Linked DNA regions of Homo sapiens: region 1 is linked to region 2. A link means that fine-mapping ties the variant in region 2 to the expression of a gene that starts in the linked region. Tissue or cell type: esophagus mucosa. Region 2 holds a variant in brackets; the other region holds the start of a gene. All regions are shown on one strand. Distances are from middle to middle.

The links. PIP is the estimated chance that this variant, and not a neighbour inherited with it, causes the effect.
Region 1: it holds the start of TBRG4, and the variant in region 2 is fine-mapped to the expression of TBRG4 in esophagus mucosa (GTEx, PIP above 0.99). The same link has a PIP of 0.9 or more in cerebellar hemisphere.

Annotation. Positions count from the first base shown.
Region 1 is chr7:45,109,515-45,115,545 of GRCh38, reverse strand. It overlaps TBRG4 (transforming growth factor beta regulator 4), which reads left to right and starts at 3,849. Exons shown (of 11, transcript NM_004749.4): 1 at 3,849-3,903. RefSeq lists enhancers at 3,322-4,077, 3,441-4,150.
Region 2 is chr7:44,964,478-44,972,329 of GRCh38, reverse strand. It overlaps MYO1G (myosin IG), which reads left to right. Exons shown (of 22, transcript NM_033054.3): 6 at 105-215; 7 at 541-657; 8 at 1,271-1,495; 9 at 1,593-1,738; 10 at 2,176-2,290; 11 at 2,455-2,625; 12 at 2,847-2,917; 13 at 4,372-4,446; 14 at 4,593-4,725; 15 at 5,492-5,658; 16 at 6,050-6,257; 17 at 6,470-6,693; 18 at 7,241-7,385; 19 at 7,811-7,852. Among named protein-coding and RNA genes, the nearest start is that of MYO1G, 11 kb to the left of the region's middle. RefSeq lists an enhancer at 6,173-6,272. The variant C/G (reference allele first, on the strand shown) is at 4,347.

The DNA of each region.
Region 1 (6,031 bases), 140 kb before region 2:
CCCAGGAAGCGGAGCTTGCAGTGAGCCGAGATAGCGCCACTGCACTCCAGCCTGGGCGACAGAGCGAATCTCCATCTCAAAAAAAAAAAAAAAAAAAGTCTTAGGGCCAGGTTCCAAAGGAAACTGTTCCTCTAATCACAACACTTCTGGAAGAATCTCAAGCATCAGAGCTTCTGTTCCCATGGGGTTTGGGAGGTGACACCTTCCCAGCATGTGGATGCATTCACCAACTTGGAAGCTCTCTGAACCCCATTGTTTAATAAGTTTTTATGAAGTTTCATTACCTAGGTATAATTGATAAAATCATTGGCCATTAGTAATGACAGTCAAAAGAAATGTTTTTATATGAGGAATATGAGCTTCCTCTAAATTATCAGGCCCAAAAAAAGGCATGAGAAAGAGACAGCAGTCACATCTCACTTCCTCCCTCTTGCTGAATAATCATCTTTTGAAGCTGCTTGCTATGTGGACTCTAGACTGACTGCCCCCCAAGTAGCTATAAATTAACCTAACAATACTGCATGCTGCACAACATAACTCATACCCTATCATTCAACAATGTATAGCCATCACTAATCAATGTTATTTCTGTAAACCAATGAGAATTCCTGACAAACAACTTTTTATCTGCCCCATGCCTAGTCCCCTTTTTTACCTTTAAAAACCTGCTTGTAACAAAGGCTTAATGAAGCTCATATCCCAGGTTACTTGCATGTGAGTCTTCTGGGCAGCTGTCTTCATTTTGGTTCAAATGTAAACTCTCCACTTTTATTAATTTTGCCTCCGTTTCTTCTTTTAGATAAACTGTAATCAAATCAATCTCCAGCCTCTCTCCTCTCTCTGGAGGTTGAGAGGTGGGGCTAAAAGTTTCAGCCCTCTAATCACATGGTTGGTTTCTCTGATAACCAGCTCCCATCTTCCAAAAGCCACTTCATTAGTGGCATAAACTCAGGTATGGTTAAAAGGGGCTTATGATGAATAACAAAAGATGTCACTATCATTCAAGAAGTTACAAGTGTTTTACAAATGCCCATCAATGATAGCCTGGATAAAGAAAATGTGGTACATATACACCATGGACTACTATGCAACCATAAAAAGGAATGAGATCATGTCCTTTGCAGGGACACAGATGGCGCTGAAAGCCATTATCCTTGGCAAACTAACACAGGAACAGAAAACCAAACACTGCATGTTCTCACTTATAGGTGGGAGCTGAACAATGAGAACACATGGACACAGGGAGGGGTACAACACACACTGGGGTCTGTCCATGGGACAGGGGGAAGGGAGAGCACCAGGATAAGTAGCCAATGCATGCAGGGCTTAATACCTAGGTGATGAGTTGATAGGTGCAGCAAACCACCACGGCACACGTTTACCTATATAACAAACCTGCACGTCCTGCACATGTATCCTGGAACTTTAAATTAAATTAAAATACACATACACAAATGAAAAACATCAGGATAGCAATTAGCTGGGGTGGAGGGATAAGAAAGAAGAGGAAACTCTCAGAAAATTGCAACAATATTGGTAATATTCTATTTCTTAAGTGGAGTAATGGGTTCACGGGTTTCTTTTCATAATTCTGCTTTGTAACTTGAGCATATTTAAATTTATATATACACTATATATATTATGTATATGTAGCAAACATTTTATAAATACAAATGATATTATCTTTATAAAATGCCTTAATGAAAACCTAAAGAAAAAAGTTACAAGGGTTTTAGAAGCTCTATGCAGAGACCACATATATATTTCTTAAGTCACAGGTGGCTTTTAGTATACTCAGTGTTGTGCAACCATCCCTATTATCCAATTCCAGGACACTTTTACCATCTCAAAAAGAAACCTCAAACCCATCAGAAGTCACTCCCTATTCTCCCCACCTCAACATCACATAGGTGACTCTATCAATTCACCTACTCTGGACATTGCAAATATAAATGGAACTATACAATATGTGGCCTCATGTGTCTAACTTCTTTCCCTTAGCATGTTTTCAAGGTTCTTTCCTCAACAAAACTCCATTAGTTTGTCTAAAGCTTTTCTTTTAACAGATCTATAAATCTGTTGTAATATTGTCTTTTGACAGACAACTTGTGAAGGATTTGGAGTAGAATTTGTGATAAATACATGGAATCTTAATTAACTGTTAACAGAAAAATCAAACTCTGTAAATTACTTAAAGAGGTTTATTCAGGGCCAATGAGTGACCACAGCCCCAGGAAAATACAAACCCAAAAAGCCTTAAGTGTTCCCGAGGCAGTCAGATTATAGTTTGGTTTTATACATTTCAGGGAGCCAGGGGTTACAGGCAAAGACATAAATCAATGTGTGGAAGGTATACACTGGTTTGGCTCCAAAAGACAGGATGTCTTGATGTGGGGGGTTTACAAGTTATATGTGGACTCAAATACATAGATATATACACGATATATGATTGATTGATAGATAGATAGATAGATCTCTTGGTAGGGGTAGATAGGGTCTCCCTATGTTGCCCAGGCTAGTCTTGAACTCTTGGCCTCAAGTGATCCTCCCACCTCAGCCAGCTTGACCAAGAGATTTTTTAATTTGCAACTGGTTAAAAGAGTGAGGCTCTGTGTAAAATTTGGAGTCAGCAGAAAAGAATGTTTAAGATAGTATGCCAGAATCAGCCACAATACACTGGGTCAAAAAAGACCTCTTCAGCAAGATTGATGGTCTGCAAGCTTGACTTAACCCTTGCCTTGCACGGCCTTAGGTCTTGTTTATAATTTGGTATCTTACTACCACAAAGTCTGTTAGTCTTATGATCTCTACTTTAACAAGGGGTGTTCAACCTCCCTTTCCAGAATGGCTGGGAACTCAGTTTTTAAGGTTTCTCTGGGGTCTCCTTGGCTAAGAGGAGGTCCGTTCAGTGCTTGGGGGGCTTACAATTTTATTTTTAGTTTACAAACACAAACAAACGTAATTATTTATTTTTATGTTTTTTGTTTTGTTTTTTGCGACAGAGTCTTGCTCTGTCAACCAGGCTGAGTGCAGTGGCAAGATCGCTGCTCACTGCAACCTCCACCTCCCGGATTCAAGCGATTCTCATGCCTCAGCCTCCCTAGTAGCTGGGACTACAGGTGCGCCCTACCACGCCCGGCTAATTTTTTTGTATTTTTAGTAGAGACGGGGTTTCGCCATGTTGGCCAAGCTGGTCTCGAACTCCTGAACTCAAGTGATCCGCCCACCGAGGCCTGGGATTACAGGCGTGAGCCACCGTGCGTAGCCAAGTAATTATTAACTCCACAGAAAATAAAAGGCTGTGCAGGAAGTAAAAATTAATCAAGTCCATATATAGACCTCAGATACATTTCGTTTGGGCTATCCTGCACTTTACTTTGTAATTAAACACCACTATTTAAAAATCAGGAAAATTGCACATAAAAATCCAGCTGCAAGTGGGCGCTCTGGAGTTCCCCAGTCTCCACTCACTCGTCCTCCCAGCCCCCACAGGCCTCAACGTCGCCTATCCCACTCCACCAGCCCAGTCTTCCACCGCCCTAGGAACTCTCCTACGCCTACGCAAGCAGGGAGGGATAGGGTGACAGCACCGACAACAAAGGGTCGTCTCCCGCACTCCGTATGAGGATGGCGTACTGGTCGGGGGGCAACCGAAGCCTTTCTTCCTAGGTTCTTTATCTTTTCTAAGTTTCCCATGACCTATCGCTCCGCTTGAGCCCTCAGCAAAGATGTCACCCGCCGAAAGGTGTGGCCGGAAGCTGGAGGCGTGGCTTCCGGACGTGCGGGGCGAGGCTCGTCTCGTTTCCGCCGGCGCTCCGAGTGACGTAGGGAAGCGCGCCGCGCACCTCATGGTTCCGGGGACAGTTAGGGCGGCGGATGGAGGTCAGCGGTGGTGCTCGCTGCGTAGGTCTTGTGGCACGGGGAGAAGGGGCGGCTGATCGTGGGTTTCGAGTGCACAACACAGGCGTGGCTGGGAAGGTCCTGGGATGCGGTGGAACTGGGGAGCAGGCTGGGACGCGGTGGGATGCCGTGGGCCTGGCCGTCTGCTCGTTCCGTGCTGGCTTGCCAGTGCGCACGCTTCCTCTCTAGCCCGCGCGGCCAGGCCTGGAAGACGCCGCCCCTGTTGACCGTCCATGACCCCAGCGAGCCAGTTTTCGTGACTTAGTGCAAGTTGTTTTCTCTCTGCATTTTAGAACTAAAGTTTTGGATTGCTGTTTGCCTAAACTCAAGTCTGGCTCCTGGGCTTCCGTTTACTCGGCTAAACTGCTCTTAGGGCTCTTAAAAAATTGGAAAGGCGGCCGGGCGCGGTGGCTCACTCCGGTAATCCCAGCACTTTGGGAGGCCGAGACGGGTGGATCACTTGAGGTCATGGTGAAACCCTGTCTCTACTAAAAATACAAAAATTAGCCAGGTGTGGTGGCGCGGGCCTGTAGTCCCAGCTATTTGGGAGGCTGAGGCAGGAGAATCGCTTGAATCCGGGAGGCTGAGGTTGCAGTGACTCGAGATCGCAGCATTGCACTCCAGTCTGGGCGACAGAGCGAGACTCCGTCTCAAAAAAATAAGTCGGAAAGATTTCTACACTGTGCTTAGGCTCAGGAAGTGGTAGATGTTGCGTTTGGGCAAATACTCCGACTCTCTGATCTCTCTCTCTTTTTTTTTTTCTTTAAGTGGAGTTAGACTAAGCTTTTTACAGCTGCTTTAATCCCCTCATATAAAAAGAAAATGTGCTGGCCATATACCAAGTTCCAGGAAGTGGAGAAAGATCAAACGTACATTCTGCTTTGGCAGAAATGAGGCCTAGGTGAACGTTTTATCTTGCCCTTGTCGCATGTCTTCCCTGGATCATGTAATCACCGTAGGGAGCTAGACTAGCTGATAGAATTTTTTTTCTTTTTTTTTTTTTTTGTGACAGAGTCTCGCTCTGCCACCCAGGCTGGAGTGCAGTGGCGCGATCTCGGCTCACTTCAAGCTCTGCCTCACCCTCCCTAGTAGCTGGGACTACAGGTGCCCGCCACCACGCCCGGCTAATTTTTTTGTATTTTTAGTAGAGACGGTGTTTCACCGTGTTAGCCAGGATGGTCTCGATCTCCTGACCTCGTGATCTGCCCGCCTCAGCCTCCCAAAGTACTGGGATTACAGGCGTGAGCCACTGCGCCTGGCCGATAGAATTGTTAAAAGCAACATCAAGGCTATATGTAACACATTGCTGGAGATGGCAACATTGAGTTTGGCCTTGGAAGGATGAGATGTATTTTAAAGGGTCTTATAGGGGGAGGAGGAGACCCAGATAACAAGCCCTGTAAGGTGAAGTGGAAGTGCAAGGCCTGTTTAAAATGGGGCCTTGTGTTGCTGGGAGGCAGAAAAAGCTAAGACTGAGAAAATCATTCTGGGCCATGTTATGAAGTGCTTCTTATTATTGGTTCAGAATTTTTGCTGTTAGAAATTTGGTGGGGGGGTTTTAGTAGGCTAGTGATGTAATCTACCTTGGTTTCGAGAGGCTCACACCTATGTCTACAGTGTTAAAATATATCCACAGAGGCTTTGGGAATGTGAATTTTTTTTTTTTTTTTTTTTTGAGATGGAGTCTCTCACCCAGGCTGGAGTCCAGTGGTGCAATCTCAGCTCACTGCAATCTCCGCCTCTCAGGTTCAAGCAATTCTTGTGCCTTAGCCTCCCAAGTAGCTGGGATTACAGGCGTGCACCATGATGCCCAGCTAATTTTTATATTTTTAGTAAAGATGGGGTTTCACCATGTTGGCCAGGCTGGTCTCAAACTCCTGACCTCAAGTGATCCACCCGCCTAGGCCTCCCAAAGTGCTGGGATTACAGGCGTGAGCCACCACGCCTGGCCAAGCCCGTAATTTTTAATCCTGGTTACCCTTGAAATAAAAAAATAAAAAAAAATTAATGCTGTCTAGGTCGTGTCTGCAGAGATGCCATCATTTAGGAGGCCTTGGGCAGGACCTGGGAATCTGAATTATTGAACCACATCCTAGGTGATTTCAAATTACAAGCAGGATGGAAACCCTCC
Region 2 (7,852 bases):
CAATACTGGAAGGAAGCGCAAGTCTGTTTGTTCTCCTGCCTGTGTGTGTGTACAGGGGGACATCCTGGGAGCTTATTTGTCTAAAGGATGCCTGTGTCCTCTAGTTGCTGAGAGGCAGTGAGGACAAGCAGCTGCATGAACTGCACTTGGAGAGAAACCCTGCTGTATACAATTTCACACACCAGGGAGCAGGACTCAACATGACTGTGCACAGTGTGAGTGTGAGGGGCACCAAGGGCTCAAACTGGGCTCAGTGTCAGGGCCTGAGTGTGGTGGTAGGGAATGGGCAGCACTCAGCACAGGCCAGGGTGAAGTGAACTGTTTGCGTGAGTGGGGAGGGTGCTCGGGGTGGAGTGAAAATGGCTGATGGAGGGGACAGAGTGCAGGGGTGAGCAGGTGCTTAGGCTGGAGTAATCAGGTTCAGGAAGGGGACAGGGGACAGGGGTGAGCAGGTGCCTAGGATGGAGGAATCAAGCCTCAAGGGAGACAGGTGTCCTGGGCCCAGTGTGGCTTTGGAGTGATGAATCCCTTCTACCCTAGGCCTTGGACAGTGATGAGCAGAGCCACCAGGCAGTGACCGAGGCCATGAGGGTCATCGGCTTCAGTCCTGAAGAGGTGGAGTCTGTGCATCGCATCCTGGCTGCCATATTGCACCTGGTGAGCCTGGCTCAGAAGCCTGGGAGGGCTACTTCCCCACAAGGGTTTCCTGGCTGGGAAGCACCCAGGGATGAGGAGGAGACTGGCTGGAGATGCCCCAGCAATGTGCTAGGCTGACTGCCTCTCCTGCAGAAGCTGAGCTGCTCGAGTGATGAGCTCAGTTGATACATGGTCCAGACCCCATTCTTAGGGCCAGGTCAGCCAGGCGCAGTAAAAGCTGAGCATCATGCAGACTGCCTCTTAGTGCAGTCATGAGCTGTGTGGCTTTGGTTGCATTTACTCAGTGCCTCTTGGCCTCAGTTCTCTCTAAGCGGCATGAGGAGTAAGTAGTGCAGGGCTCCGCTGGCTGTGGGAGGATGCGATGGGGTCATTCACATGTCATTTGGACTCGAGGCCTCGAGGCCTTGGCAGAGACTCTGGTGTGCCCATGCCCCCTTCCCCCAGTCTCTGGCTGTGTCTGTGCCCATGGTGAGCAGCTGACCATGCTGGTCTGAGAAGGAGCTGTACTCTACCGCATCCATGTCCCCTGCTTTCCTTCCTCCTTCTTGTCCAAAGTTGTCCAGGCTCTTTTGAGACATGGAGCCCGGACTGTTCATGGTTTTCCCATCACCAGGGAAACATCGAGTTTGTGGAGACGGAGGAGGGTGGGCTGCAGAAGGAGGGCCTGGCAGTGGCCGAGGAGGCACTGGTGGACCATGTGGCTGAGCTGACGGCCACACCCCGGGACCTCGTGCTCCGCTCCCTGCTGGCTCGCACAGTTGCCTCGGGAGGCAGGGAACTCATAGAGAAGGGCCACACTGCAGCTGAGGCCAGCTATGCCCGGGATGCCTGTGCCAAGGTACTTTGGGGGCAGGCACAGGGAGGGAAGCCCAGGAGGCCTTCATGGGGGAGGCCAGGCCAGAGGCAGCAGGAAGCAGGGTGTTCCTATCCCCCAGGCAGTGTACCAGCGGCTGTTTGAGTGGGTGGTGAACAGGATCAACAGTGTCATGGAACCCCGGGGCCGGGATCCTCGGCGTGATGGCAAGGACACAGTCATTGGCGTGCTGGACATCTATGGCTTCGAGGTGTTTCCCGTCAACAGGTGGGTGGCTGGCCAGCCACATCTCCACCTCTGACACCCAGCAGCTTTGCCCACTTAGTTCTGGAAAGCTCGGCTGGGGCTGGGCAGCAGGAATGTTGGGGTTTCTCCCGGCTGGTCCCTGGGCCCAAGGCTCATGCCTCCCAAACCTGCCTCACCTGCACCCTCTGACCATTGATGTCCTGATGGAAGGCAGAATTACGGGGCATGAGTAATTCCTGGTTGTGACTCCCAAGTCCACTCCAGAACGTGCATGCAGGAGGTGTGGGTGGGGTAAAGGAGTCCAGGGCAGGGATGCATAAGCCACAGGGAAGCCACACAGGGTGCTGGCACCAGAACCCTCAATGAACATTAGCAGAGATGTTCAGGGGAGCAGCCACCCATTACCATGCACTCCACAAGCAGCGACCTCCCCTCTGAAAGGCCCACCCCACCCCCAGTTTCGAGCAGTTCTGCATCAACTACTGCAACGAGAAGCTGCAGCAGCTATTCATCCAGCTCATCCTGAAGCAGGAACAGGAAGAGTACGAGCGCGAGGGCATCACCTGGCAGAGCGTGAGCACTGTGGCCTGGAGGGAGGCCAGGCAGTGGGGTGTGGAGGGGCCTCAGCCCATGGGGAGGGGCCCGGGCTGGCCTGACAGGTGGCTGAGTGTGGGGCGGAGGAGGGGAGGTGGCCTGAAAGACCTTGGGAGCTTCCTTGCTGGCTGCCTTTGCCCCAGGTTGAGTATTTCAACAACGCCACCATTGTGGATCTGGTGGAGCGGCCCCACCGTGGCATCCTGGCCGTGCTGGACGAGGCCTGCAGCTCTGCTGGCACCATCACTGACCGAATCTTCCTGCAGACCCTGGACATGCACCACCGCCATCACCTACACTACACCAGCCGCCAGGTGCCCCCGGCTGTCCCAGTGCCACCACAGTGGGCTGGTGGGACCTGCCCCACAGGCACCATGCTGCCCATGCCTCGTGGGGCCTGGTTGGGGACCCAGCTTTGGTGCCATTGTCGTCACTGTGGCAACCTTCTCTGCCCTGGAGGTGGGGAGGCAGGGCTATCCCTTCATACAGACCCTCCACATACCTTTTGTGCCTTGACCTCAGCCTGTCCCCATAGCTCTGCCCCACAGACAAGACCATGGAGTTTGGCCGAGACTTCCGGATCAAGCACTATGCAGGGGACGTCACGTAAGGGCCCCCTCCCACCCACATCCCTGGCTTTCCCACAGGCACCATGGCATGTGTCATGGGGCAGGAGCGCTTCAGGGGAGTGGCTCGGAGACAGGTGTTATGGCCACTTCTGCCACCCCCACCCCTTTAAGACACTGAAACATGCCGGACAGCAGATTCACAAGTGAAGAGCAGGAAACAGGGTTTGAGGATAGTGGTTAACCATGGCTGCATTCTTCTGGGAGCCTTTAAAAAATACCCACGTCTCATGTCTGGGCCCAACCCTATACCAGCATCTGTGGGGTGGGGGGCTTCAGGCTGGTGATGTGGGGGTGGGGAGGGAGTGGAAGGTGCAGGGGGGCCAAGATTCTGCATTTCTAACAAGCTCCCAGGTGAGGCCTCGCTACCATACTTGGACCACGCTCCCAGTGCCAAAGCCCAGGTGTCTTCAGGGGTTGTCATGATGGCTATTAACTTATGTGTTGCTTGCCGCATCCCAAAACGATTTAAGGTGACTCACATCAAGGTATAAGTGTTTCATGAGAACTTCTCAAGGAGAGGGAATAGAATAGATGATGACAACAAAGCAGCCCAATATCATCTACCTTTATCTGTTCGCAAAATCTACACCCATGAGGTCGCTCATGCCTGTAACCCCAGCACTTTGGGAGGCCAAAGTGGGTGGATCACCTGAGGCCAAGAGTTCGAGACCAGCCTGGCCAACATGGCAAAACCTCATCTGTACTAAAAATATAAAAATTATCCGGGCACGATGACGCGTGCCTGTAATGCCAGTTGCTCGGGAGGCTGAGGCACAAGAACTGCTTGAACCTGGGAGGTAGAGGTTGTGGCGAACTGAGATCGCACCACTGCACTCCAGCCTGGGCAAGAGAGTGAGACTATTTCTCAAAAAAAAAAAAAAAAAATCCATTCCCTGAGCCTTCATAGGTGCTGCAGTTGGAGCCAAGATTTGGCACTGACCTTTCTAGCAGTCCAAGAACTAGACAGTGATTCTGAGGCTCTCAGTGCCCACAGATCAAAATAGGCCCAGGACTCAGGAGTTCCTAGTCATAGTTGTAGTCGCTGATGTTTATCAAAATTCAGTAGGCACTGTTCTGAGCAACTGATGTACACTGAAGCACAGAGAGGTTGAGTGGCTTAGGCAAAGTCACACAGCATGCATGTGGTAGAAGCAGGACTCGGTGCTAGGACATTTGGCTTCAGAGCTGGGGGCTTAACCACTCGATTCATCTTCCAGGAGAGAAATGTCTCCTGAGGGAGGGAGTCTTACATGACGAAAGAGAAAGCAGGTGTGAGGGGGAAGGAGGAGAGGAGCCAAGGCAGAGGGAGGAAGAGAGACTGACCTATGGGAACAGAGGCAGATGGGAAGAGAGTGGGGGCTGCTGGGGTCATTAGCACTCTGGCCTGGCAGCCCCCGCCCCTGCTC[C/G]CTCACCAGCCCTGGCTTCTGGTAGGTACTCCGTGGAAGGCTTCATCGACAAGAACAGAGATTTCCTCTTCCAGGACTTCAAGCGGCTGCTGTACAACAGGTGAGCACGGCTTGCTGGGCACCATAGGGAGGGCCAGGGCCCTGGGGCCCCAGAGACTCTGGGGTCAGGCATTGACTAGCGTCAGGACGTGGGTGGGTGGGGCTGCTCTCCCAGAGGATGGCTGGGAATTCGGCCTGTGTCTGCAGCACGGACCCCACTCTACGGGCCATGTGGCCGGACGGGCAGCAGGACATCACAGAGGTGACCAAGCGCCCCCTGACGGCTGGCACACTCTTCAAGAACTCCATGGTGGCCCTGGTGGAGAACCTTGCCTCCAAGGTATGTTCCACCCCTCTCCCACTCTGGCTGTTCCGGATCCTTCTCTCTGTGCCCTCGGTGCCAAGTAGGGTCCCAACCACCTCTGTACATCATAGTGGTGGGGAGAGGGTTCTTGTCCTGTCTGTATGAGCCACATCTGCTCCAGCAGTGGACCCCACCCACTGCACAGGTGAGATGTGGGGCCTCAGGGGCTGGGCTGAGGCTTGATCAATCATGGGGAACCCAGGCTTCTCCTCGCCCCATTGTCTCTTGAACAGGGAGGGGTTTGGGGAGACCCTGCTGAGAGGCTGGCTTGGCCCAGCCCAGCTCTTGGCAAAAACCCAGGATTCTTCTGGCAGGTGGGGCCAGAGAGACAGGAAACTGGCACAAGCTTTCTTGGGGAGCTTTGGGTCAAAAGTCAGAAGAGGAACAGGTGAAGGGTCAGGGAGAGGACATGTTAGGGTGAGCTTAACTACAGAACATCCAGAGATGTCAGCCCCTTTTGGAAGGAGAGAAGGAAGGCAGATGGGGCGAGGCCTGCTCCTGCCCCTGCCACGCCCACCTCCCCACCCCCCGACCAGGGGCTGGAACCTGGCTCTGAACCTGGCCTTGCTGGCCTCTGCCCAGCACTTAGGGCTTCCAGGGCCCTTGTTCTGCTGATTTCCCTTCTTTGTTCCCAACTCTTCTCCTGGCCTGGGACCTTGAGGGGTTAGGAAGCCCCTGGTGTGGGGCAGGGTGCACAGTGCTGCTGGCGCAGACCCTCTCCAAGTCCCCTCTGTCCCTGCAGGAGCCCTTCTACGTCCGCTGCATCAAGCCCAATGAGGACAAGGTAGCTGGGAAGCTGGATGAGAACCACTGTCGCCACCAGGTCGCATACCTGGGGCTGCTGGAGAATGTGAGGGTCCGCAGGGCTGGCTTCGCTTCCCGCCAGCCCTACTCTCGATTCCTGCTCAGGTACTGGCACCTGACACCCATCACTCCATGGGCCATAGTCCCTGTGTGGAGTCCAAGGGGTAGGAGCAGAGGGTCCCCAAACAGCACGTCGCAAACATCGATACAAGCAGGAACCAGCACGCTGCTGGCCTCAAGACACCAAAATATCTGGGAAGACATGTGTGTGAGCACATGCATGTGGGGACATACAGGTGGGAACATGGGTATGAGGGCTGTGTGAGGACATGTATGTGAGGACATGTGTATGGGAAGACATATGTGCACAGGTGTCATAAGTGCTCCAGGAACACACTCTGTATCCCTGCCATCTCCCCAGGTGTGGGGTGGGCAGGGTGGGCTCCATCATCTCTCCCCCAGGCCTGGGCCACACTGCCCTGTCCTGTGGTGACAGGTACAAGATGACCTGTGAATACACATGGCCCAACCACCTGCTGGGCTCCGACAAGGCAGCCGTGAGCGCTCTCCTGGAGCAGCACGGGCTGCAGGGGGACGTGGCCTTTGGCCACAGCAAGCTGTTCATCCGCTCACCCCGGACACTGGTCACACTGGAGCAGAGCCGAGCCCGCCTCATCCCCATCATTGTGCTGCTATTGCAGAAGGTGAGGTGGGCGGGGCAGGAAGACATCCACTATGGAGGTGGGGAAAGCTTGTGTCCCAGGGGCCACAAACACACTTGTAAGTTTCACAGGAGTCTCTGCTTGATGGAGACAGGCCAGGGAGTGCTCAATAAATGCTCAGGGCCAGGTTTGGGTCTAAGGGTTAGGGCCTGATTGAATTTGACTGCGTATCCCATCCCACCTGGCCCACCCAGGCATGGCGGGGCACCTTGGCGAGGTGGCGCTGCCGGAGGCTGAGGGCTATCTACACCATCATGCGCTGGTTCCGGAGACACAAGGTGCGGGCTCACCTGGCTGAGCTGCAGCGGCGATTCCAGGCTGCAAGGCAGCCGCCACTCTACGGGCGTGACCTTGTGTGGCCGCTGCCCCCTGCTGTGCTGCAGCCCTTCCAGGACACCTGCCACGCACTCTTCTGCAGGTACTACTCTCAGCCCACCACACATTCCATTCAGCTGGCATCCACTGAATACCTTAACCCATCATCCCGGGCCTGCAGTGCCTGGATGGGAGATACACCAGCCCCCTTGATAGGTGGGAAGGTGGATGCTATGCCACATTAGCTGACTGCTCATGTCCCACAGTTGGTGCAGAGCCCTGACCATCTTGGGTACTGTGGTGGGCATTCAAGGTCCAGGGCTGCAGCCTGCAGGGGGAGGCCCATTAGGGCTGGGAAGTAAGGGGATTCTGCATCTGAGCGGGGTCTTGAGGGCTGAGTAGGAGTTCTCCAGAAGGAGGGGCACAGAGCATGCTCAGAACAGGAGGACACTGGGCGACTGCTGGTCCCTGGGTCACCTTCCAGGAACAAGCGTTAGGCACAAGGGGCCAAGGCCAGAGAGGCCGGCAGAGGTTGGGACATGAAAGGCAGGCAGCACCAGGCTGAGGGCTCAGCTTCCTCTGTGGAGAGGGGGCTCAGGGAGCACATGAACACATGGCCAGCATCTGTCTGACTACATGCCCTCTCCCAGGTGGCGGGCCCGGCAGCTGGTGAAGAACATCCCCCCTTCAGACATGCCCCAGATCAAGGCCAAGGTGGCCGCCATGGGGGCCCTGCAAGGGCTTCGTCAGGACTGGGGCTGCCGACGGGCCTGGGCCCGAGACTACCTGTCCTCTGTAAGTGCCAGGCGAGTCCAGGGCTGCCAGGGGGAAGTGGGCTGCCAAAGAGGGCTCTCGGCTAATGCTGTGACCAGGTCCCCTCAGATGTCCTCTCCCAGGCCTGGGGTTGTCTGTCCTGGTGGCCCTGTACCTCAGCCCCCACCAGAGCTCTGCAAGGTCTCATCCTGGGCTTCAGGAGCAGTGGCCTTCGGGGGTGGGTGTGGATGACAGGAGGGCCAGGCTCAGATGCAGCCTAGAAGTCAACACAAGAGGGCTCTGTGCCCTCAGGAAATCCAGGGCTGCTCAGCTCACGCACAAGTCTGTGTGACTCAGTTTCCCGAGATGAAGGATAGCTATGCTGATTCACAGACAGCTGCTATCAATTGAGTCTGGTCCCATGACTCAATCCCAAGCAGCGCCCCCTCCCCTCCATCTGTCCTCAGGCCACTGACAATCCCACAGCATCAAGCCTGTTTGCTCAGCGA